Homo sapiens: one gene and its partners. The protein of the gene in region 4 interacts with the protein of the main gene of each other region in a pairwise test. Each region holds a gene or a part of one and is shown on either strand. Other genes may lie near its edges.

Region 1 (2,461 bases), on a different chromosome or scaffold from region 4:
TCCCAGCACTTTGGGAGGCCAAGGCGGGCGGATCACGAGGTCAGGAGATCGAGACCATCCTGGCCAACATGGTGAAACCCCGTCTCTGCTAAAAAATACAAAAAAATTTAGCCAGTCGCGGTGGCGGGCGCCTGTAGTCCCAGCTACTCGGGAGGCTGAGGCAGGAGAATGGCGGGAACCCGGGAGGCGGAGTTTGCAGTGAGCTGAGATCGCGCCACTACACTCCAGCCTGGGCGACAGAGCAAGACTCCGCCACAAAAAAAAAAAAAAAAAGAAAAAAAGTAGGATATGATAGATGGTCTCTACATTGGGTATCTGGAAACTGCCAGAGTGTGTCAACACTATACTAACCTATCATTGCTATAGCAGCTGGACTACTGCAAAGTAGTTATATGCATAAAAAATGTAAACTTGCTTTCTGCATATGTGATATACATTCTTGCCATATAAATTTCCTAACTCAGTGATGATTTATTCTACTCAAAACTAAATGTTAACATTTAATACATCTACATGTGATTATGAATATTAGATATGAACATTTCAATTTTCTTAGTAGTATTTAGGCAGACTGGCTTCTGTTAAGTTGGATTTTGTTTGTTTTCTTTATTTAAATAGGATTATTACAGCACCAAAAAACTTCTCTGAAGCCTTTCTCCACAACCTTGTTCTATGGATTCCATAATGTTACAATGGATTTAAGCTATGAAGCCTCAAAACATCACGAGATAAGCATGATGGTCTCAGACTTGGGAAAACTGCCTAATATTATGCTGTAGTGGAATTATGTTTAGATTTGAATTCATCTGTGAAGCATTCAAATCAAAGCTAAAAGCCTAAATGTGAAATGCTAATGACAAGCCTGAGAAGGTAAACTGTGAATCTTCATTTCTATCATTGATCTAACTTTAGATATTGGATCAATATATTTAGGTGGTATTGAAAATGCTATTGGAGGAGTCACACTAATACTATCAACTATCAGTCTTCCCACAGCTTCAATCACTGTCATTATTCTAATCCTACTCCTACTTAAATTTTAAGTTATGAGGTTTATGTCAAAAGCAACATTTCACAAATGTACTTTTAAGGCATAATAAGGGTTAACATTCTAGGCAGTATAAACACACCCCATAATGCAAGTAATAGGTAATCTAGAGATGTGGACTTTATTGCTATATGGGAATTACATTTAAATTTGAGGGCATTTTATATAAAGAAAAATACAGACCTATAAAGTTTGGCATATTCATTAAGTTATCTTTTAATATTTTTTTCTAGAAAACAGGTGACATTTGTATCTACGATAAAAATTTTTATACAGAACCTACTGCCTCAAACTGAATCCCATCAAGAAAACTAGTTTCTATTGTATTAGTAACTCAAAATAAATTATCACTTCGAAAACTTGCTTTCCCACACTAAGGTAAGTTCAGACTAGATTGAACACTCCAGAATTTTTTACTACAGACTGTTTTTAAGTTAGAAGTGATGGCAATTTTATAAATAGAGAATATACTTCCACTGATGCCCTTACTGTGCCAAAACAAAAATCTTAAGAAAAGCAAGTAGACACCTTCATAACTATGAATGAAGCTGCTGAAGTAGTGTTTAGGATCCTCCATGGCAGTTAGTGAATGTAAGAAGTACAGTGTTAAAGTGTTGTAAACAGTTACTCAGTGCAATGTATAGCCTGAGTCTATCCATGATGGCTATATCCAATTTGACATCACGTTATGGATCAGTACACAATGAAAAACCAAAGAACCACAGTATATCTTATTCTTAACTTTTGTAAACCATGTTTTATGGGTAACTTTTTAGTTTTCCCAAAAGGCTGATAAATTTCAATATTTTGAATACATCATTGTTAATTTTGAGTTGGCAGAGGTAAACTAACCAACTACCATTATGTTTTAGTACTAAGGGATATACCTTTCAATAAAGTTAATGAAATTCAATCCTTTGCTGGGTGGCTTTTTTCTCCTCTGATTTAATTAACTCTTTTAGCAATGTGTTAACAGAACATTATAAAAAGCTATCTCTACTCAGTATATTTAAATTTAGTACTAAAGTTAGATGCATAGTACCAGAAACAATAAAATCCCTATTAATAATATGACTATTAGATGACACTTTACTTTGTTTTTTCTGAAACATTATAAAAAGCTCTCTCTACTCAGTATATTTAAATTTAGTACTAAAGTTAGATGCATAGTACCAGAAACAATAAAATCCCCATTAATAATATGACTATTAGCTGACACTTTGTTTTGTTTTTTCTGAAACATTATAAAAAGCTCTCTCTACCCAGTATATTTAAATTTAGTACTAAAGTTAGATGCATAGTACCAGAAACAATAAAATCCCTATTAATAGTATGACTATTAGCTGACACTTTACTTTTTGTTTTTTCTGAGACAGGGTCACTCTTGTCACCCAGGCTGGAGTGCAGTGGCGC
Region 2 (3,500 bases), on a different chromosome or scaffold from region 4:
TTGGTAGGTATTTTCTCACGTGGCCGGGGCAGCCTAGGACCTAGGGTTGCTTTCTGCCAAAGCTGGTTCCATTCCGGCCTCACCTCCTGCCTCCTCAGGGTGCCAGCCGGGCCGCCGATGACGCCGAGCGGGAGCGCAGGGACCGAGAGGAGCGGCTGAGACACTCGCGGAACCCGGCTACCCGCGGCCTCCCTTCCACAGCCTCCGGCCGCCTGCGGGGGACGCAGGAAGTGGCTCCCCCCACACCCCTCACCCCTACCTCACACACGGGTGAGTGCCCCCCTCCCAGCGCTCTGGGGCTGGCTCTGGGGTGACTTCTTGTGTCTTGGGGTTGGTGGGGACAACAGGGTACTTGGTGGTGGACACTAAGTGCCCTGTGTCAGGCGATGCTCGCTCCTGAGGGTGGATGAGCCAGGCTGCCCAGGCGCCTTTAGAAATGCCGGCACCTGCTGGTGTGCGTGATTCCTCCCGCATCTCACGTTCCTCCCCTGTGAGCCCCTTGACCTCGCTCCCATGTCCCTTTGTGTCCCTCCGGCCGGATCTGAGTGTTGGTGGCCATCGGCCACAGCCAGGTCCTGACTGTCCAGGCAGCCCAGGGTCCTCTCTGGCCACAGCCTCTCATAGAAAGCCCCGAGTGAGAGGCAGCAGACGGGGGCGGCCCACTCCGTTTCTCTCCCTGTCCTCAGCTAACACCTCCCCCCGGCCCGTCTCCGGCATGGAGAGAGAGCGGAAAGTGAGTATGCGGCTGCACCGCGGGGCCCCCGTCAACATCTCCTCGTCCGACCTCACAGGCCGACAAGATACCTCTCGCATGTCCACCTCACAGGTAGGTGCAGAGCTCCCGGGCGGGCGCTGGGCCTCGGGCTACCCCGTCCGAGTCAAGAGCGGGCTGTGGTTTCTCCAGGGCTTCTTCTTTCCTTTCTTCCCCCCATTTTTGAGAGTTTTTAATCTCGCCAGGGTGTGGCGTCTTGGTTGCAGATGAGGCTTCTCGGGAGGGCCTGGGAGACATGCTGGGCCGTCATGGGGCTTGTCTCCTGGTTGCAGGTGGCCAGTCTCAGGTCTCAGGTCCCTGAGGCCAGCAAACCGTGGGGGCTTTCTCCTGCTGTTTGAGTGCCCCGCTGCCCGCAGCCGTCCCCAGGCAGCTGACACCGCTCGCCTGCTTGCGCCCCATTGTGGGTGCCCCCAGCCCGAGGGAGCCTTCCTCATTCTTCCTCATTCTTGCCACTGGCCAGGGATGGAGGCCCGTAGGGACCTCCACGGGCTTCTTGTGAGACCCTCCCTGGTGGCATGCCCTGCAACGAGGCTTTCCTTCTTTTGACGGCCTCACCTGTCTTCCCTTGGACGAGAAGTACCCTGTTGCGCAGCCCAGGCCTAGCCACGGCCACCGCCTCTTCAGCATCCTGCAGCGGTCTCTCCTCTCCTCGCTCTGGCTTTTGTTGTCTTTTGCGTTTGCTAACGTGCTCTTTGAACTAGAACAGCTTTCTCCATATGGATCCATTATATTTCTTCAAATAGTTTTCTGGGTTGTTCGCCAACAGGGGCAGGGTTAGTGGGGCAGGGCTGTTTCACCAGCAGGCATCCTGGGGGGTGCCCAGATCCCCCACGGGTCTTCCGGATGAGCAGGAACTCAGTTCAGAAATGCCCTGGAGCCTGGCTCTGGGCTTGTGGGGAGGTGTTTGTTGGGATCACAGGATGGAGCCAGGCCTGCTGCCGTGAGCGGGGCTGGGTGTAGCTGGCTAGCCAGGAACATGCCGGAGTGGGGAGCACTCTTGACCACTTGCCGTCTTTTAATGATTGGGGTTTTACTGCACGTTTCTAATTCACTAATAATTTCACTAGAAACAGACCTTTTTGTATAACTTCTTCCCAAAGAGACCAAAGATGCAGGGATTTTGGCTTCGTGGTTATTTTGACTTTGTGGTTATATGAATTGGGCTCGAGGGGTCTGGGCTGCGTCACGAGAATGGGTCCCTTACGTGCACACAACCCTGCTGTCACCTCCAGACACAGCACAGAAAGGGTTTAACTGGCTTCTTTCCACGAGCCTGGCACTTGCGCATCAGTTCCTGTGAGCAGTTCCCGGGAGGGTCTGCCCGTGCCCTCGTGTCTTGATGTGCGGCTGGCTCTGTAGCCCCTGAACCATGGTACAGGAGCCCAGAGTGCTCCCCATGCTGGGTGCTGACCGGACTTGGACAGCCTCGCCCCAGCGCTTGGCTGACAAAGACTAGGGAAGGGGCCTGAGTGCTTTTTGTTTCTTTTAAAGAAAGTAAAGTGTCCAGTGGTTTGGGATCTTTGTGGGCAGTGAAGGTGTCCTGAGCGTGCTGAGTAGCCACAGCCCTGAGTCCAGCTGCCTTTTCTCGGTACACGGCCTTGGCGGCACCTGGGTGTGGCTGTTGTAGCCACCAGCCCCCAAGGTGGCCGTGAGCAGTGTCTCCTTCCATGGTGAGCTGTGGCAGGAACCCGCAGCTGGCTCTTAGGCCCTCGTTTTCCATATGAGGAAATACAACGTGGGCTCTAACAGCAGGGAGGAGTCTCCAGAGAGAGCTGGTTTGGGGGTGTGTTCTCTCCAAAAGAAGCCTCTTGGCCTCTGCTCCTGGACACCCTGGGGGGCCTTCCTGAGAGGCATGTTGAGGGCTCCCCACCTCCAGGGCGGGCCCCCTCCTTTGTCACCATCTCACAGGAAGGCTTTGGCCGTGTGTCCTTCCTGCCAGACTCTGCCAGCACCAGCACACGTGGTGGCTGTGAGCAGCAGCTCCCGTTTTGAATCCCAAGGGGGAATACAGGAGGCTCAATTGCTCTGAGCGCCTCACCTGTTTGCTCGGGTGAGCTGGAGACACAGTCACCGTGGGCAGTGACTCATCCCCGGCCAGTCTTCCTCCTCGGGCCGTCGCTCTTCCCTGTTCTTTCTGCTCCTCTCAGGAGACCTTGCGCCCTGTGGAGATGGGAGGAGGCAGCAGGAAGGTCTCCCAGGGCTTGCTGGCCGTGGCTGGGTGTGGATGGGTGGAAGACCACGTGGCAGCCTGCCTGTAGGTCACAGAGGCCCCCATAGTTGTAGGGCCCCGCCCCAGCCCGGACTCCGCCTGGGTCTGTTCCCTCTTCGCCCCCTCTCTTTTCGGGCTGTTGGTGTTCGGCCAGGGCTCTTTGGCTACAGTAGCCTGGGCCCTAAAGGCCATCTAGTTGCTGAGTCTGTTTGGGGTTTTTACTTGGTGAGAAGAAGGCCTTGTCATTCCAACAGTCGATGACTCGCTTTGATCAACTCCTGCCCAGGACTAGGCCTGAGCCCTGTCGTCGTACCGGCGAGGATGTGCGTCTCCCCTGCCTTCAGGCTGTGCCCTGAGACCCAGTTGTGGGGCTGCCCAGCACCTGCCATCCTGCTGGGATCAGGTTTTCTTAGTGCTTGAGAAGACTCAGGAGGGCCTGTCCCATGCCATTGTTGGCCTTAAGAGCAAGTGATTCCAGAAGAGGAGTGGGCACCACTCTCATCCAGAGGCCCGTCCTGA
Region 3 (3,500 bases), on a different chromosome or scaffold from region 4:
GGAAAATTCTTCTTCCAGGGAGCGTTCCCAGACTCCTCCCCATCCTCCAGCACCCTTTGGCTGTGCCCACCCGTGGCTGCCCCCAGGGCTTGTGTCTGGTGTTTATATCTTTTCTCTGCCTAGGGGCGGGCCCACCTTCTCTTTGCTGTCTCACAGGAACCCCCAGCCTGTGCTATGTTGATGCCCAGGCCAAATCTTTCTCATGACCTTTCTTCATGCAGGTGCTGCCCGCAGATGAGATCCCTAAGCCCATCAAGCCCCCGACCTACCAGGTGCTGGAGTATGGAGAGGCTGTGGCCCAGTACACCTTCAAGGGGGACCTGGAGGTGGAGCTGTCCTTCCGCAAGGTGGGCCAGGCCGGAGACGGAGGGGTGGGTGGGGGCAGGTGAAGATGTAGGTAAATATGTGCACTAAAAACAGTTTTTTTTTTTTGAGACAGAGTCTCACTCTATCGCCAGGCTGTAGCGCAGTGGTGCCATCTCGGCTCACTGCAACCTCCGCCTCCCGGGTTCAAGCAATTCTCCTGCCTCAGCTTCCCGAGTAGCTGGGACTACAGGCACGCGCCACAACACCCAGCTAATTTTTGTATTTTTAGTAGAGACAGGGTTTCACGATGTTGGCCAGGATGGTCTCAGTCTCTTGACCTCATAATCCACCCGCCTCAGCCTCCTAAAGTGTTGGGATTACAGGCGTGAGCCACCGCGCCTGGCCTAAAAACACTTCTTTAAAAAAGAGTCCGATGTACCTAGCTTCACCCAGGATTTCAAAGTTTTCCCCAGTCTCTTTCATTATGCTTCCTTTAGTGTAGTGGCTTTTTTTTGCTTTTTTTTGAGACAGCATCTCACTATGTTGCCCGGGCTGACCTTGAACTCCTGGGCTCAAGCGATCCCCTGTCCCTGCCCCAGCCTCCCAAGTAATTTTGGTCCATTTTTAAAAGATCATCATAAACTTCTAGAGTTACATATATATTTTTTCAACTGCAGGTTGCAGGGGATCATACTCAGCATTTTTAAAGGTATAGACAGAAATGTTAGCATGCGTTGCGAGCAGAAAGCACTTTATCATACCGTAGGCAGTTCTGTGTATGCACATATATATGTATTCTGGGCTGTTATTAAAACATTTTTAACTGTAGATTGTGGTGAAACAAGTTTGAAAAATGCTGTTCTAGAAAGCAGGGAAGTGGTCTGCCTTTGGTTGATTTTGGGAGCAGTGATCATGCTCCCAAAATAAGCGAAAGACGGCCCATAGTGAATGCCTCCCAGAAGAGCTGGCCCCAGGGACAGAGGGGGAAGAAGGTGGCTGGATGGAGACAGATGGGGGCAGGAGAGGACAGGGGAAGGCAAGGGCTGGAGGCCACCCTCCCAGGGGGTGGTTCTACCTAATGTCAGCCAGCCTGTGGCCTTCAGGACTCCCTGCCTGTCCTGGGGAGTGTGTTTTTGACACGCTCATGACAAGGTCCCCCAGCGTGAGGCAGGAACAGGACCCAGGCAGGGCAGTAGTGGTAGCACCTGTCCAGTGTGTCTAAGGAGTGGACTGTTGATCTCGTTCACACCTCATAGTGACAGTATGGTTATTTTCACTTAACATAGGAGAAAACAAGGCTCAGAGAGACAGAGCAGGCTGCCTGAGGCCACACAGCTTGGCCTGGTGGAGCTGGGTTTGGATCTGTATTATTAGCCACGGGCTCACCTGTGATCGGAGCTCTGGGGAGGGACCTTGCTATGAACGCCGAAGGGGGATGCACACCCGTTGAGCTTCCAAGAGGCAGGACCCAGTCTCAGCCTCAGCCTTGCCTGGGCAGCCTGGGCTTGGCTCCTGGCTCCTGCTCTTACCGTGTGACTCGGGTAAACTGCTGGCCCCCTGCGATTCCGACCCCTCGTGTGTCCAAGGTGTTAGGGTTGAATGAGACAGCCCAGATAAGGCACCCGTGGGTCCATGGCACCAGGAAGGCCCCACAGACACTGACTTTTCCCCCCTCAGGGAGAGCACATCTGCCTGATCCGCAAGGTGAACGAGAACTGGTACGAGGGACGCATCACGGGCACGGGGCGCCAAGGCATATTCCCTGCCAGCTACGTGCAGGTGTCTCGTGAACCCCGGCTCCGGCTCTGTGACGACGGCCCCCAGCTCCCCACGTCTCCCCGCCTGACCGCTGCCGCCCGCTCAGCCCGTCACCCCAGCTCCCCCTCAGCCCTGCGCAGCCCAGCTGACCCCATCGACTTGGGGGGACAGACCTCCCCCCGTCGCACTGGCTTCTCCTTCCCCACCCAGGAGCCTAGACCCCAGACCCAGGTGAGGTAGCCTGCCTCCACCAGAGAGTCGACCTCCTCCTCACCCCTCATCCCCCACCCCCGTGACTTGTCCACACTTGGGACTCCTTCCCAGACAGCCCTGGGACATAGGAGTGGGGTGACAGGGCAGAAGCTAGTATGGCAGCCCCACCCTGGCCTGGGGGACCTCAACCTACCGAGCTCTAGCCGAGGGAGCTCTAGATGGAATCCCAAAGCCGGCCCAGGCTCCTGACCCTGGGTGTTCTTGGTTCATCCATGCTGGCGTCCAGAAACCCAGGCACTGACCTTACTTGGGCCTCAGTTTTCTGGCCCCTGTGAAATGAAATAGTCACAGCAGGTGTCCCTGTGCCCTGGGGGTTTGGAGGCTAAGATGAAGCCGTTTGTAAGGCGTGCTGGCAGGTGGACTGGGAACGCCCATTTTGGGCCTCCTCCCTCAGGCTTACATGTACCCATCGTCTTCCTCCCTCTGACATCCCTTTCTTCCTGTCAACTCCCAGAATCTTGGCACCCCTGGTCCAGCTCTGTCCCACTCTCGAGGTCCCAGCCATCCCCTGGACCTGGGGACCTCCTCTCCTAACACCTCTCAGATACACTGGACCCCGTGAGTACCATCTGAGGGCTCTTGATCAGACGTGGGGGGGGTCACTGGCAGGCAATGCCCCATATTCCACCCTCCCCCAAGTCCCCACCTGTGGATTTGGGAAACTTCTACCAGGTAGCCCTTGTCCTCGAAGAGCTTATGGTGATTTGGGGCAGGGAGGAGGCGCTGGTCTGTGATGTTCCCAATCCCTCCTGGCAGCTATGTGGCCTTGTGGCCTTGGTCTCCTCATTGGGTTTCTAGCCCTGAGGTCGGTGCATGTATAATTGAAGTGTGGAACTGGTGGAATGGACAGGAAGGCACCAGGTGCTCAGAGGAGGCGAGGGTTCAGTGCTTAGGGCCCAGAGGGCAGGAGGCAGGCCTGGGAAAGACTACGGTGAGCACAGGCTGAGTTGCTCTGAGGAGCTGGATCAGGGGCTAGTGAGAGCATGAAGGGACCCTGGGGCATTCACAGGAAGCGGCAACACTTGGGTTAGAGCCTCTGGGCCCATTCTCTGGTTGCCATGATACGCTTCTCGCAGGTACCGGGCGATGTACCAGTACAGGCCCCAGAACGAAGACGAGCTGGAGCTGCGCGAGGGGGACAGGGTGGATGTCATGCAGCAGTG
Region 4 (3,500 bases):
CACAGAGGCTGATTTGACTAAAATTATCAGAGTCAGAAGGAAACTAAGACTCAGAGAGGTTGACTTGACTAAAATTATCAGTCAGAATTCATTCCTATGCCCGTCAAAAGCATGTGTTCTCTCTGCAACCAGGGCAGGAGGGCAGCTTAGCAGCTACCCTGGTTCCTGCTGGTTGATGCCAAGGCTGTCTGAGTGGTGAATTCACCTAGTAAAGTGTAGTGTTTTTGAAGCTGGAAGGGCTGCATTGCTGAATGTTCAGCAGGCCAGGCACTGTCATTGTAGAACCAATGGGCAGTGTTGGGGGACTGAGAATGGTGCTATGGTAGCAATTTTAAAGAGCCCACTGTGTGCAGTTATTGCTCCATGATGTGATAGAATGACTACCTTCTTATGCATCGTGGTGGGGCAGGAGCTTGAAACACCTGCTTGCCTCTACCATGTCACCAGATCCAATGAGCAACATGCCCCATCCCACTTCTCAGTGGCATTTGACAGGATTCATTAGCCCTTCCTTCTTGAAATACTTTCCTCCCTTGGCTCCAGGACACCTTGCTTCCTTAGTTTCCTTTCTACAGCACTTGTCACTCCTTCTCTGCTCCCTTTTGCAAGATCCCTCTGCTCTTTCTGGTATCTAGACGTTGGGGTCCTCAGACCATCTCTTACACATTCAGTATCATGGCTTTTAATATGAACTAAGCACCGATGACTCTCAGATTCATGTCTTTAGCTTTAACTCTTCCCTGGACTTGGGGCATGCCTAAGTCTCCTAAGTGACACCTCCACATGGATGTCTAATCACTCTCCCAAACTTTACATGGCTAAAAGAACTCTTAATTTTCCACCATGTATTAGCTATCAATATTGCTGCATAACAAATTATCCCAAAACTTCATGGCTTAAAACAAACTGCCTCATGAAGCAAAAAATAGTGCTGTTCAACTAATTTCCCCTAAACTTTAAATAACAAACATTTACTATTTCACAGTTTCTGTAGGTCACAAATTGAGAGGGCTTAGCTGATTGATTGGTTCTGTCTTGGAATCTCTCATGAGGTTGCAGTCAAGGTTTCAAACAGGAACACAGTCATCTGAAGGATCAACTGGACCTGGAGGATCCACCTCCAGAATGGCTCACATGGCTGTTTGCCAGAAGGCCTCAATTTCTAGCTAGCTCTTAGCAGGAGTCCTCAGTTTCTTGCTGCATGGACCTCTCTATTTTATTATTATTATTATTTTTATTATTTCTGAGACAAGGTTTCACTCTGTCATCCAGGCTGGAGTGCAGTGGTGCAATCATAGCTCACTGCAGCCTTGAGCTCCTGGGCTCAAGTGATCCTTCAGCTTTAGCCTCCCAAAGCTCTGGCATTACAGGCATGAGCCACTGCACCCAACCCTTCCAAAGGATTCTTGAGTGTCCTCATGACATGGCAGCTGGTGAAAGCCAAAATAAATGATGTAAGAAAGCAAAGGAACTTGCCATCATCTCTGCCTTTTTCTTTGATCACACAGATTGATCCCAATACAGTGTAGAAGGGGACTACATAGGAATATGAATGTCAGGAGGCACAGGTCATTGAGAGCAATTTGGAAGCTGATTATCACACCCCACAAGCCCTGTTCCTGCCCCTGGATTCCTCATCTCATTAAATGGCCTGTTGCTTAGGCCAAAATCCTGATAGCCATCTTTGATTCCTGTCTTTCAAGATCTCACCCAATCCATCAGCAAATCCTGTCAGCTCCATCTTCAAATCCTGCCCTAGATTTCACCATTTCTCACCCCATCTACAATAACCACCCTAATCTCAGCCCACATTAACTGTGATAAGCTGCTGGCATCCCTGTTTCCACTCTTGCCACCAAAGTCTCTCCTCCAGCAGCCAGAGAGTCAGACTGTGTCATTCCTGTCTGCTTAGCAACCCCCAGTGCTTCCCACCTCACTCGGAGCAAAAGCCAACGTCTTTGCCAAGGTCTTCATGATCTGTCCCCCGGCAGCTTCTCGGCCCATCTTCCTTAGTGGACACACTCCACTATAGCTGAGCGTCTGCTCTTCCTCACAAACTAAGCCTGGATCTGCCTCAGAATCCTGCATGTGCCACTCCCACTGCCCAAACCACCCCTCCTAGGAAAGGGATCTTGCTTTTTCCCTCACTCAGCCAGGCTTCTGCTCCAACGGAACCCCCTCAGAGAGTCCTTCTGTGACTACCCTATCCAAGATGGCATCTCATTACTTTCAACCCCCTCACTCTGCTTTATTTTTCTTAATATTATTCATTACTACTGAAACACACACTGTATATTTACTGGTTTTCTTTATTATTATCTATTTCCTTCTCTGGAGCATAAACCCCAGGAGGGCAGAGATATCATTCATTTTGACTGTTGGTGGACCCTCCCCCTCACACCTAAAACAGTGCATAGCACATCATAGTTGCTCAAATATTAATTTTTGAAATAAATGAATGAATGTGCTGCATGGGAACAATCAATTCATCTAGAATAGTGCCATCCAATAGCCCTTTCTGCAATGAGGAAAATGTTTTATATGTGTACTGTGTGATGTGGTAACTACTGAGTTCTTAAAATGTGACTAGTGTGATTGAGAAACTGAATTTTTAATTTTTAATCTATTTTTGTTTATTTTAAATAGGCACGTGTAGCTTGTAGCTACTATATTAGAATAGATCTAGGTCCTTGGGGTGGATGGTAGGGGAGTGGGATAAGTTAATGCCATTCCATTTACACCCAGTAGAGTGATAGAGACTTTCTGGGGCACTGCATTAAGAAAGAGCCTCAAGTCCAATCAACAGATCTTTTCTGAGTACCTTCTATGTATCCAGCACTGTGTTGTCATCGAGATCTTCCAAAACAGAGTGCATTGATGGATTAGCACTTTCTGCCCTGGGCTAGGAGCATACCACATGACAAGATGTGGTATCTTTACCATCCTGGCCTCAGCAATTCCAGGAGTGGCCAGAGCTCCTTCCTGATTCTTTCCAGGAAGTGACTGCTGGACCTACATATTGTATCATATACCAGTAATCCCCTCACTGGCTTCCCCATTCTCCTCCAATAAATCCCCTCATCCCACTCTTCCAAGTCAGAGTGGATGTTCTTTGCTGGGATCTCTTTCGGGTCTAGCATCATTTTCATTTCACACATACCCCTGCAAAGTCTGATCACTCTCAATTATATTTGTACTTATTTGGTGAGAACATTGCACATGTTCACCCTGTGGTTCACACCACTTAGCACAGGGAGACGTATTTTCCCCTGTACCTACATCTGCTGTGTTATACCTGTGTTATACATATATGTCCATACCACCCTCTAGTATGTGAATTCAGAAGCATGGGAAAAGGCCTCCTACCCCTGAAATGTCTCCCAAAAATGCTAGCTGAAAACTAATGTCCTTTAATGAGGGATGGGGTTTTTCATTACTGAACAAGAAAATAGGGCTTAACAAGCAAGTACACCTTAGATATGACACACGTGAAGTAACCT
Region 5 (3,500 bases), on a different chromosome or scaffold from region 4:
ATTCTCATAAGGAGTGGGCAGCCTAGCTCCCTCATATGTGCAGTTCACAATAGGGTTCATACTTCTATGAGAATCTAATGCCCACTTCGATCTGACAGGAGGCGGAGCTCAGGCAGTAATGTATGCGATTGGGAAGCAGCTGTAAATACAGATGAAGCTTGCCTGCCACTCACTTCCTTCTATGCAGCCCGGTTCCTCACAGGCCACCAGAAGTTGGGGGCCCTTGCTATAGTGCTTCTGTTCAAGCCCTGAGGCAACGAAATTCCTTATCCTTTCTTGCCAAATCCGATCTGCCTTTATCTAATCAGAGGTATTGATACTGCCTCTCCATGTGGTCTGAGGATGCTTCTCCACCCTGCTCCTCTGGGTAGCAGCTGTGTCCCATTTACAACTTGTTCTGTCTGTTCTTGTAGCTCTTTATTTACTAGGAATCTACAGAATAATTCTTTCTCACAGGCTGGGCAAGGTGACTCATGCCTGTAATCCCAGCACTTTGGGAAGCTGAGGCGGGTGGATCACCTGAGGTCAGGAGTTCAAGACCAGCCTGGCCAACATGGTGAAACCCCATCTCTACTAAAAATACAAAAAACTAGCTGGGCATGGCGGACGTGCCTGTAATTCCAGCTGCTTGAGAGGCTGAGGCACGAGAATTGCTTGAACCCAGGAGGCGGAGGTTGCAGTGAGCAAAATTGCGCCACTGTACTCCAGCCTGGGTGACAGAGGGAGACTCTGTCTCAAAAAAAAAAAAAAAAAAAATTCTTTCTCACAGGTAATTAATCTTTCTGTTAATTCTTTTTTTATAGCAAGGAAGATGTCCGAGCAACTGAAAAAGACAAGGTTGTTGGTTGGTTCTTTTTTTTTAATGGCTTTACGTATCTCAATCCCTTAAAAGTATTATCTCAGGCCAGGCATGGTCACACACACCCGTAATCCCAGTACTTTGGGAGGCTGAGGCGGGAGGATCACTTGAGTCCAGGACTTCAAGACCAGCCCTGGCAACATAGCGAGACCCTGTCTCTACAAAAATTTTAAAAATTCAAAAATTGGCCAGGCATGGTAGCTCATGCCTGTAGTCCCAGCTGCTTGAGAGGATGTGGCTGGAGGATTGCTTGAGCCCAGGAGTTTGAGGTTAAGTGGTGGCACGCACCTGTAGTCCTAGCTACTTGGGAGGCTGAGGCAGGAGGATCCCTTGGTCCAGCAGTCCAAGGCTGCAGTGAGCTACCATTGCATCACTGCACTCCAGCCTGGGTGACACAGTGGGATCCCACCTCTTAAAAAAAAAGAAAAAAGGGCCGGGTGCAGTGGATCACACCTGTAATCCCAGCTCTTTGGGAGGCCAAGGTGGGCGGATCACAAGGTCAGGAGTTCAAGACCAGCCTGACCAACATGGTGAAACCCCGTCTCTACTAAAAATATAAAAACTAGCCTGTGTCGTGCCATGCACCTATAATCCCAGCTACTCAGGAGGCTGAGGCAGGAGAATCGCTTGAACCCGGGAGGCAGAGGTTGCAGTGAGCCGAGATCGCACCACTGCACTCCAGTGTGGGCGACAGAGCGAGACTCCATCTCAAAAAAAAAAAATTTTCATTTGTATGATAATACTGTAGAAGCAATTAAAAGTTCTTGACTTGACATGAGTAATGATGATTTCTACCCTCCAGGATTAGAAAGTAGATTGGCTTTACCAGAAGCGTTCACAGTTTCATATAGACCCAGTCTAGAGCTTTCACTTAACATTCCTGTTCTTTCTTTACAGGTTGAAATTTATAAGAGTTTCCGCCCAGGTGACATTGTCTTGGCCAAAGTGGTATCCTTTATTCCCAGCAGACTTCTGGTCCTTTGTCAAAAGAAGAGAAGGAGGCCGGGTGTGGTGGCTCATGCCTGTAATCCCAGCACTTTCGGAGGCCAGGGCGGGTGGATCACCTGAGGTCAGGAGTTCGAGACCAGCCTGGACAACATGGTGAAACCCTGTCTCTACTAAAAATACAAAAATTAGCTGGGCGTGGTGGCACATGCCTGTAATCCCAGCTATTCGGGAAGCTGAGGCAGGAGAACCGCTTGAACCTGTGAGGCAGAGGTTGTGAACTGATATCACGCCACCGCACTCCAGCCTGGTTAACGGAGCAAGACTCCATCTCAGAAAAAAAAAAAGGTAGAAAAACAACTCAGGTGGCTAAGGTGGGGGAAGACTTCTAACTCCTCATTTTCCTTCACCGGTGTTATGTGACTAGATCTCCTTAGGTGATGCACAGTCCAACTACCTGCTAACCACCGCCGAGAACGAGCTGGGAGTGGTGGTAGCCCACAGTGAGTCAGGTGAGATGGCCTTGTTTCCACATCCTTACTTTCCCTGGATCTATGGTTTGGGATAAATCCATTGTTTTTCCTGGTTTCCCTTATCTGGGAAGCAGTATGGCTATAGATATTTCCCTCTGAGATTAGAATGATTATTTTTTTCTTTTTTGCTTGGTGCTGGTGGTGGTGGTTGTTTGAGACAGGGTCTCACTTTGTCGAGGAGGCTGGAGTGCAGTGGTGCCATCTCCACTCACCACAGCCTCCACCTCCTTGGTTCAAGCAATTCTTGTCACCCAAGTAGCTGGGATTACAGACACACGCCACCACACCTAGCTAATTTTTGTATTTTTAGTAGAGACAGGGTTTCGCCATGTTGGCCAGGCTGGTCTCAAACTCCTGGCCTCAAATGATCTGCCCGCCTTGGCCTCCCAAAGTGCTGGGATTACAGGTGTGAGCCACCACGCCCAGCCTGATTCTCCTTATATAAATCCAAGGAAACGGGACTCACTTCATAAGTCAGTAGAATGAACAAAGTTTTTTCTTTATGAGTTGAGGTTCAGTAGGAAGCTTGGTGGCACTTCAGCTTCATACCCAGCATAAAAGAGGAGTCGCAGGCAAATCTTTGGGGTCTGGGCTCCACCACCAGCTTTTCCCTTCCAGGTATCCAGATGGTTCCCATCAGCTGGTGTGAGATGCAGTGCCCTAAGACCCACACTAAAGAATTCCGGAAAGTAGCCCGAGTACAACCCGAATTCTTGCAGACCTAAGAAGCCACTTTTTACCCTATGGAAGGGGGTAAGCTGTTCCTGAGTATAACACCAAGATGCTGCTGTCTTTATTCAAACACCTGGCGTCGGCCAACAGCCACTTCCAGAAAAATCTTCCAGTTTACGCTGTAGATGGAACATGTTTCTGTGAACCTATCAGTGGATTTCATTCTCTTGAGTAATAAATCTTATCTTTTCAAGGCACCAACAAACAAAACTGTGATATTGGAAATAGCCTATCCCTCCTGACAGTCCTTATAAATACATATTTTTTGCTATGATAAAACTTTTTTACTAAAAGGATGTTATAGAGTCTGTTGTCTTAAGCAGAGAAAGACATCTAAATGGTGTCAGGACATTTCAGTACTTCTGCTTATTGAGTACTTACTGTGCTAGGCACTGAGTCAGGTGCTTTACATACGTCCCCTTCATTTAGGT
Region 6 (3,500 bases), on a different chromosome or scaffold from region 4:
AAAAAATGAGAATAAAAACCTTGAGAAACCTTAAAGAAAAGAATAGGTGTTTTTTTTTTAAAAAAATGGACTACATATTATTCTGTTTTAAGTATGAATGTATGGACTGTGCCTTGTTTTTTGGTTCTCATTAGCACTGTGATTCTTTTTAGGAAAGTTCCTCTTATAATTACTCTTTCTCCCTAAGGCAATATATTTAAGTCTAATCTGCAGTTCTCATTTCCAATAACATTTATTTTAACGTGAACATTTAAAAATCCTATTTGGAAAATTTCTTCCCTTCTCAAAATTTTTAAGACCAAATGGTTTTCCCCACTTTGTATCACTTTCAGTGTGTTTAGTTTGCATCCTGAAAGTCTGTGTTCTTTAACTGTTGAAGATTATTAATTTACTTAAACAGCTATAAAGCTGTAATACTTTGTTAATCATAAAAAATTATCTGAGATGTTAAAGTATTTTGTTTAAAAGTAAATGAATAATGGGATCCTGGAATAGAAAAAGGACATTATGTAAAAAAGGAAAGAAATCTGAATAAAGTATGGACTTCAGATAATAATGTGTCAATATTGGCTTATTAATTGTGACATATGCACCATACTAATGTAAAATGTTAACAATAGAGGTGCCCTTTATAATGTCTTCACAACTTTTCTGTAAATCTAAAACTATTCTAAAAGTTTATTTAAAAAATTAATGAATAGCAATAAAAACCAAAACATGGGAATTTGTAAGGTTTGCCTTTGTGTACTCTTTACAGCTAGAGCATATGGGCTAAAGGTGGATATATCTTATTTATGAAAACCTAGAAATTTAGTTTCTATTTTTTTGATTGGTTTAGAAATAGAAGCTTATTATAGAAAGTCTTTTTTCTAAACAAAAAGTTAAGAGTTTAGAAAAGCCCCCATGTTTTTGATACTCAGTTACTGTTATATTTGACATATTTTTTTAATTGCTATACAGTGCACTTAAAAATTTTAACACTATTTTTATACACATTTTCTAATGTAGTGGGATAAAATCACCTATCACTTTAGATCATGCTTTTTTCTACATGAAGAGGCAGTAGAGTCGAGTAAGATTCACATGGGTTGAATCTTGCTCTCTGCGTGTGTGATCATATAAACCAACTTCTCTGAGTCTCTGTAGCATCTGTAAAAATGGTTAATAAGTGAGACTATACCTGGAAAGCACTTACTGTACTGTCCAGTATATCACTCAATAAATATTTTATAGCTATTATTAGCTTACTATAATATTGTAAGCATTTTCCTGCCTTGTTCAAACTTTGTAAACATTTTTTATAATCAGAAGAAAACTGTTGTCATAACAATTTACATATGCTCAAAAGTAGTTTTTTCTTCGTTATGGTCATAGGCCCAAGGTAGAAGAGAGGTCTCTCTCTGTGGACCACAGGTTAAGAACCAGTATTGCAGAAGACGAGAAAGTGGAAACTTAAAAAAAATTTATCCTTGATACCACAATTTTTAACAAATTGGGATAATGAGGTATTTTTGTGTTTTAGCACGATTTTTTTTTCACTTAACATAGGCAAATATTTCCCTGTATTATTAAAAATCATTCCAAACATTTCTCACAGGTATGTAATATTCCATTATGTGGTTATGCCACTATGTAGATATACTATTATTTACTGCATGATTCACTTAATGTGAATAAATATTGTCACTGTAACAAATGCCTTAATGACAGCATCTCATTAAATTTTATTAGATTTCATTTCAGAGTGAATCACAGATTATCAGGTTTCTTTTTAATTATTATTTATTTATTTATTTATTTATTTATTGTAGAGTTGGGTTCCCACTATGTTGTTCAGGCTGGTCTCAAACTCTTAGGCTCAAGTGATCCTCCCAAAGTGCCAGGATTACAGGAAAAACACCCAGCTGAGGTTTCTTTTTTAAATTAAAAAAATGTAAATAGACATTTTCAAATATAATGAATCCCCATGTGCCATTTCCCACCTTCAAAAATAATCAACATTTTTGTCTTTCTTGTTTTTATGAGCATTTAAAAATTGTCTCTTGATACATCACCAGATTCCTGATCACAGATTTGCTTTCTGCAAATCTACATTTACTCCAGTAGTACATGGAAATGCCCATTCTTTACCATAGCTGAATAGCTTTAAATCTTTATTAATTTGATAAGCAGAATAGTAATGTGTTGTTTTAATTAGCATATCTTCAGTTGCTAGTAGAGTTTTTTTCAGGTCTTACCTACTTATGCTTCCTTTTTTGAATTGCTTATTTGGGTCATTTGCCCACTTGCTATTGGGCTTATGTGTTTTCTTTTTTTATATGAGTTTATATATTAGGTATGTTAATTTTATTTGTTCCAAGTGTTTAAAAATTTGTTTATGGTATTTTTGAGATATAGAAATTTTTTATTTTTCATAGTCAAATATACCTATCTTTTTTTCGTAGGCACTGTCCAAAAAATTGAATGACACTCATAATGAACTTAATGACATAAAACAGAAGGTTCAAGATACTAATTTGGAGGTTAACAAGCTGAAGAATATATTAAAGTCTGAAGTATGTATTTTTTTTTTCTTTTTGCTCATGATACTTAGTTTTCACTAGAGTTAATTTAGAAGTTGGTATACTCAGAACGACAGGTGAATCAAAGCTTTCTTTAATACATAGTATATTTTAGTTTTGACAATGGTGGGTTAACTACATATTTAGAATGTTCAGAAAGATGCCTGGAGAATATGCCCCTTTTGTTTTGCAACTCTGCCACTCTAGACAAGCAGAATCTTCCTAACTGGATGATGGACAAAGGGCTAAAATCAATTTGACCTCGCTTATAATTAATTGAAAGTGGTGGGGTTTCCAGTTATAAACCTCTGACAAAAGAGGTTCCACCTGATTATGTAGCAGATCAGAATTGGTTACCCTGTTATGGGACCATCTATTTTTTTTAGGACCACAAGGCAGATGGTTCTCCTCACACTTCTCTGTTAGCAATCATTTGACCAGGCACATGTACATGACATCAGATGACTCCAATAAGTGTGGTGCATGTGTGGCAACTCAGGAATAAACAGGCAGCTTTACTGAGGATTTTAGATATGTCTATTAGGTAAAATATTATCTAAAATTGAGGGAGGATGTTCCCATTAATGGTTTGAGTGGTATGTAGGTAACACTATACCTATTATAATAATCAATCCACCTATACTATTTTATCATTTCATGTCAGTCCACAAACATATCTTGAACATTTATTTATGGTATGCATAGTACTGTTAAGGGCTTTGAGACAGAAGAGATTCTAAGGATTTCTAAATTGCAATCCTTGCTTTCAGGCAGCAAGCAGCCTGTGTAGGAAAAGCACGTGGTTTCCTACACTTCCTGATTTTAAGGTTCCAGCAATGTAATACCATAAATGAACAAAAGGCTTTTTATTTATGCAGGCTACTCAGCCTCTCTGATTCTTCCCATCTGTAATCGGGAAGAACACCCAAGTAAGTGAGA
Region 7 (3,500 bases), on a different chromosome or scaffold from region 4:
CCAGCCTGCTGATTCCAGAGCAGTTGGAATGACCTGGAGGGGGCTCAGGCGGCCCACACGGCTCATTGTTGGGTGCCAGGGATAGCCCAGAGGCTGCTGGGGCAGAGCGTGCAAGGGAGGAGGCCGGTTGGCCCCGTGTTCCCCCAGCTGCACACACCTTCTGATGTGCAGTTGTGCTTTCTGATTTGAAAAGAAATACATGCTCATGTGGAAAATTTTGGAAATGTTCAAAAGGAGAAAAACATCCAGACCCCCGTGCCAGTCCTCCTGCCCTCTGCTTGGTTGTGCCAGTGTCCCAGGCCGTTGGGGGTAAAGGGAGGAAGGCAGCTGCTGACCAGCGGTAAAACCTGCTCTCCCTCTCCCCGCTGTCCAAGCCTTCCTTAGAAAGGGCTGGGCTGTGTGTGAGACAGAGGAAAGCTCTGTAGACACAGGGGTGGCCCTGCCAGTGCACCCAGGCTGGTGACTGCAGTGAGTCCACCCTGGGTTCAAGACAGCTCTGCCTCTTTCTGACTGTGTGACCTTGAGTGAGCCAGAACACAGGCCTGTGCCTCCGGGTCTGCACCTCTGAGAGAGGGGAGGAACAGGAAGAGGCTGCCTTCTTCCCGCCAGCATGTAGGGGGCACTTGGGGGCGTCTGGTGGGAGACCAGTCTGGCCTCCCAGCTGGAGAGTGGGCGTGGCGCGATGTCCTCTTGAGTCAGATGTCCATGCATCCTTCCCTGGTAACCAAGTCCTGACACCTTCTATGAGTCTCGCTCGAAAGCCTTCCAGGCAGAGTTGGCAGGGTCAGAGTGGCACCGAAAGCCTAGGCAGGGCACACAAGGCCTTTGACCACATCCTATCCCTCAGGCATCACGTCCGAGAACGAACGGGAGGTGAGGCAGCTCTCCTCCGAGACCGACCTGGAGAGGGCCGTGCGCAAGGCAGCCCTGGTCATGTACTGGAAGCTCAACCCCAAGAAGAAGAAGCAGGTGGCCGTGGCGGAGCTGCTGGAGAATGTCGGCCAGGTCAACGAGCACGGTGCGAGGATTCACCCTGGGCACCAGCCTTCCCTGGGCGCCAGCCTTCCCACAGGAGCCAGGACCTTCCCATAGGGGCTGGGACCTTCCCTCAGGGGCTGGGTCTTCCCACAGGAGCCGGGACCTTCCCTGTGAGGACAGGGCCCTTCCTTGTGGGGACCAGGGGACCAGAACCTTCCTGTAGAGACCGTGCCCTAGTGGTGAGGTGTGTGGGTGGCATTTTGACAGCATCTGCCCTGGCTCAAGTGCTCACTCATTGAATAAACCAGAGGGTATTCTGCCCAGTGCTCTGTGACCACGTCTACCAATGGGACGGACTGTGTCCATCACCAAGTGGGAGCACGCTACGTGGTGCTGAGTCCACCCCAGCTACTGGAGGTACAGAGGTGTGGCCCCTGCTCTGCCTGCCCTGGGGGCCCTATGATCCCCAGAACGTAGGATGCCCCTGGAACTGGCGTGCCCTAGGAACAGTGCGCCAGTTTCTGGTGGGCTGCAGGGCACGAGGAGATAGTCAACTTGTCTGACTGTTAATCCACCCTGTCCCCTGCAGATGGAGGGGCGCAGCCAGGCCCCGTGCCCAAGTCCCTGCAGAAGCAGAGGCGCATGCTGGAGCGCCTGGTCAGCAGCGAGTGTGAGTGCAGCCCCTGCCCCGTCTCACCCATGCCTCCCAGCCTGCACCTGCAGGGCGACCTCTCCTTCCTGTGCGACTCCATCCTGGCCTGCCCTATCTCACCCGTGCCTCCCAGCCTGCGCCTGCAGGGCGACCTCTCCTTCCTGTGCGACCCCATCCTGGCCCTGCTAGGATCTCAGGCGGTCCGTTTGGGGCTCAGTGTTCTGGACGCTGGGAGTAGACCCTGCCCACCTGGAGCGCACGCACTGGAGGGAAGGCAGACCCAGGACAGAAACCATGATGTGCCAGTCCCTCTTGGACAAGGAAATACTGGGGGTGGGGACTGGCGGGGGGGTCCTGAGTGGGGAAGGATGAGGAGGGCATTAGGGGAAGGGGCTCCGGGCAGAGGGAACAGCATGAGCAAAGGCCCAGGAGACCCAGCAGGGTGTGGAAGGGGCTCTGCCCCAGCGTAGGCCCTTTGTAGGTAGGCAGGGAACAGAGTGGGCAGAGCCTAGGTTGGGGGATAGAGTCTCTGGGGCACACTGAGCTGGGGGTGCCTCTGGGATGTTTGTGGTCAAAGACTGAGAAGAGACGTCACATCCTCCACGTGCAGCTGGCCAGCCTCACTGTCTTCCATCCACGTGGGGTAGACTCTGCAGTCTGAGGCACTGGGAGCTCCTGTCCTGGAGAAGATAGACAGGCAGGAGGCTTGGGGGCTCAGTATCAATGGGGGGATGGGCCAAGACCCAGGTCTGCCACAGACTCTTCTTGTGACATGGGCAGGTCTCATTTTTCTTTCTGGGTGTCAGTTTCCCCTTCTGAACAGTGAGATGATCAGACAAGGGGACTGAAGGACCTCGCCCATCCTAGAAGCCTCTGTGGCATGTAGGGCAGAGTACAGGTGGGAGCACAGATCCCACCTTCCCACTGGGCCCGTGAGGAAACCGTCCATAGGGTGTGGTCAGAGCCCTCGCCTCTGCGTGGGCGGACATGGGTGCTTGCGCTGCTGTTTTCCTGCTCCATTTGGGGGAGACAAAGAAACACCTCACATGGAAGTGGGAAGAAATCTGTGACTCTAGGAAGCCCGAGGACCAGAGAGGCTGTGACAGTGTCCTGCCACCGAGGTGGCATGGTGCCTGCTGTCCTGAAGTGAGGTGCCTCTGGGCAGGAGCAGCCCAGCCTGGGTCTCCATCCTGGGGGGCACTGCAGGCAGAGTCTGGACCCCAACCTCACTTCCCAGTCCCACAGGGGTTTGTGATGAGCCGGGCACACCTGCTGCTGGGCCCTGTCGCTGTTGCTGGGGGCGAGTTAGGAGTCAGCGCTGCCAGCCTGTGGTCCCCTCCGCCAGGCCCTCAGGGACAGGGCCCCAGCACCCCCATTGTTTCCCCTCTATCAGAACGTTCCCATCAGGCATCATCTGTTTCTCTGCCAGCTTTTCCAACAGAACTCCCAGAAAGGGGCGTCTGTCATCCCCTTCTCTCGTCCTCCGTCCTTTGCTCTCAGGCCTCTGCCATGTTATTCCACCAAAGCGGCTCGTCTAGGCCATCAGTGACCCCCCTTGCTCAGTCACTTCTTGTCCTTGTCTGACTTGATCTGTCAGCAGCGTGGGCAGAGATGACTGCTCTTCTCCTTAGAGCCCTCTCCCCCACCAGGCCCGGGGCCCTTGCTGCCACACTGGCTGCTCCTTCTTGGGGTCCCTAGACTGATGTCCTGTCTCTCAGGACAGGACATCCTGCCCAAGGTATTCATCCCTATGAGGACAGGGGCCTTCCTTGTGGGGACCAGGGTCTTCCCGTAGGGACTGTGCTCTGGTAGGGAGATGTGTGGGTGGCATTGGTGACCACTCTCGTGTGTCAGACGCCGTCCTGAACCC

The links.
Region 1: the proteins of PAK5 (region 4) and CCNG1 interact in binary tests that used the Homo sapiens proteins (3 or more experiments, as listed by UniProt).
Region 2: the proteins of PAK5 (region 4) and CSNK1D interact in binary tests that used the Homo sapiens proteins (3 or more experiments, as listed by UniProt).
Region 3: the proteins of PAK5 (region 4) and SORBS3 interact in binary tests that used the Homo sapiens proteins (3 or more experiments, as listed by UniProt).
Region 5: the proteins of PAK5 (region 4) and EXOSC1 interact in binary tests that used the Homo sapiens proteins (3 or more experiments, as listed by UniProt).
Region 6: the proteins of PAK5 (region 4) and TSGA10 interact in binary tests that used the Homo sapiens proteins (3 or more experiments, as listed by UniProt).
Region 7: the proteins of PAK5 (region 4) and WFS1 interact in binary tests that used the Homo sapiens proteins (3 or more experiments, as listed by UniProt).

Annotation. Positions count from the first base shown.
Region 1 is NC_000005.10:163,443,056-163,445,516, forward strand, and holds the end of CCNG1 (cyclin-G1), read left to right. Parts: intron 1-618; coding exon of another isoform or gene 619-685; 3' UTR 686-1,961; downstream 1,962-2,461. UniProt on the Homo sapiens protein: May play a role in growth regulation. Is associated with G2/M phase arrest in response to DNA damage. May be an intermediate by which p53 mediates its role as an inhibitor of cellular proliferation.
Region 2 is NC_000017.11:82,246,201-82,249,700, reverse strand, and holds part of CSNK1D (casein kinase I isoform delta), read left to right. Parts: exon of another isoform or gene 1-3; intron 4-98; coding exon 99-270; intron 271-686; coding exon 687-826; coding exon of another isoform or gene 827-982; exon of another isoform or gene 983-3,229; intron 3,230-3,235; coding exon of another isoform or gene 3,236-3,337; exon of another isoform or gene 3,338-3,500. UniProt on the Homo sapiens protein: Essential serine/threonine-protein kinase that regulates diverse cellular growth and survival processes including Wnt signaling, DNA repair and circadian rhythms. It can phosphorylate a large number of proteins.
Region 3 is NC_000008.11:22,568,927-22,572,426, forward strand, and holds part of SORBS3 (vinexin), read left to right. Parts: intron 1-221; coding exon 222-347; intron 348-1,983; coding exon 1,984-2,295; intron 2,296-2,791; coding exon 2,792-2,895; intron 2,896-3,413; coding exon 3,414-3,500. UniProt on the Homo sapiens protein: Vinexin alpha isoform promotes up-regulation of actin stress fiber formation. Vinexin beta isoform plays a role in cell spreading and enhances the activation of JNK/SAPK in response to EGF stimulation by using its third SH3 domain.
Region 4 is NC_000020.11:9,566,577-9,570,076, reverse strand, and holds part of PAK5 (serine/threonine-protein kinase PAK 5), read left to right. Parts: intron 1-3,500.
Region 5 is NC_000010.11:97,436,007-97,439,506, reverse strand, and holds part of EXOSC1 (exosome complex component CSL4), read left to right. Parts: intron 1-803; coding exon 804-837; coding exon of another isoform or gene 838-844; intron 845-1,756; coding exon 1,757-1,807; intron 1,808-2,231; coding exon 2,232-2,316; intron 2,317-2,955; coding exon 2,956-3,062; 3' UTR 3,063-3,500. UniProt on the Homo sapiens protein: Non-catalytic component of the RNA exosome complex which has 3'->5' exoribonuclease activity and participates in a multitude of cellular RNA processing and degradation events.
Region 6 is NC_000002.12:99,067,943-99,071,442, reverse strand, and holds part of TSGA10 (testis-specific gene 10 protein), read left to right. Parts: intron 1-2,444; coding exon 2,445-2,555; intron 2,556-3,500. UniProt on the Homo sapiens protein: Plays a role in spermatogenesis. When overexpressed, prevents nuclear localization of HIF1A.
Region 7 is NC_000004.12:6,290,350-6,293,849, forward strand, and holds part of WFS1 (wolframin), read left to right. Parts: intron 1-847; coding exon 848-1,018; intron 1,019-1,567; coding exon 1,568-1,648; intron 1,649-3,500. UniProt on the Homo sapiens protein: Participates in the regulation of cellular Ca(2+) homeostasis, at least partly, by modulating the filling state of the endoplasmic reticulum Ca(2+) store.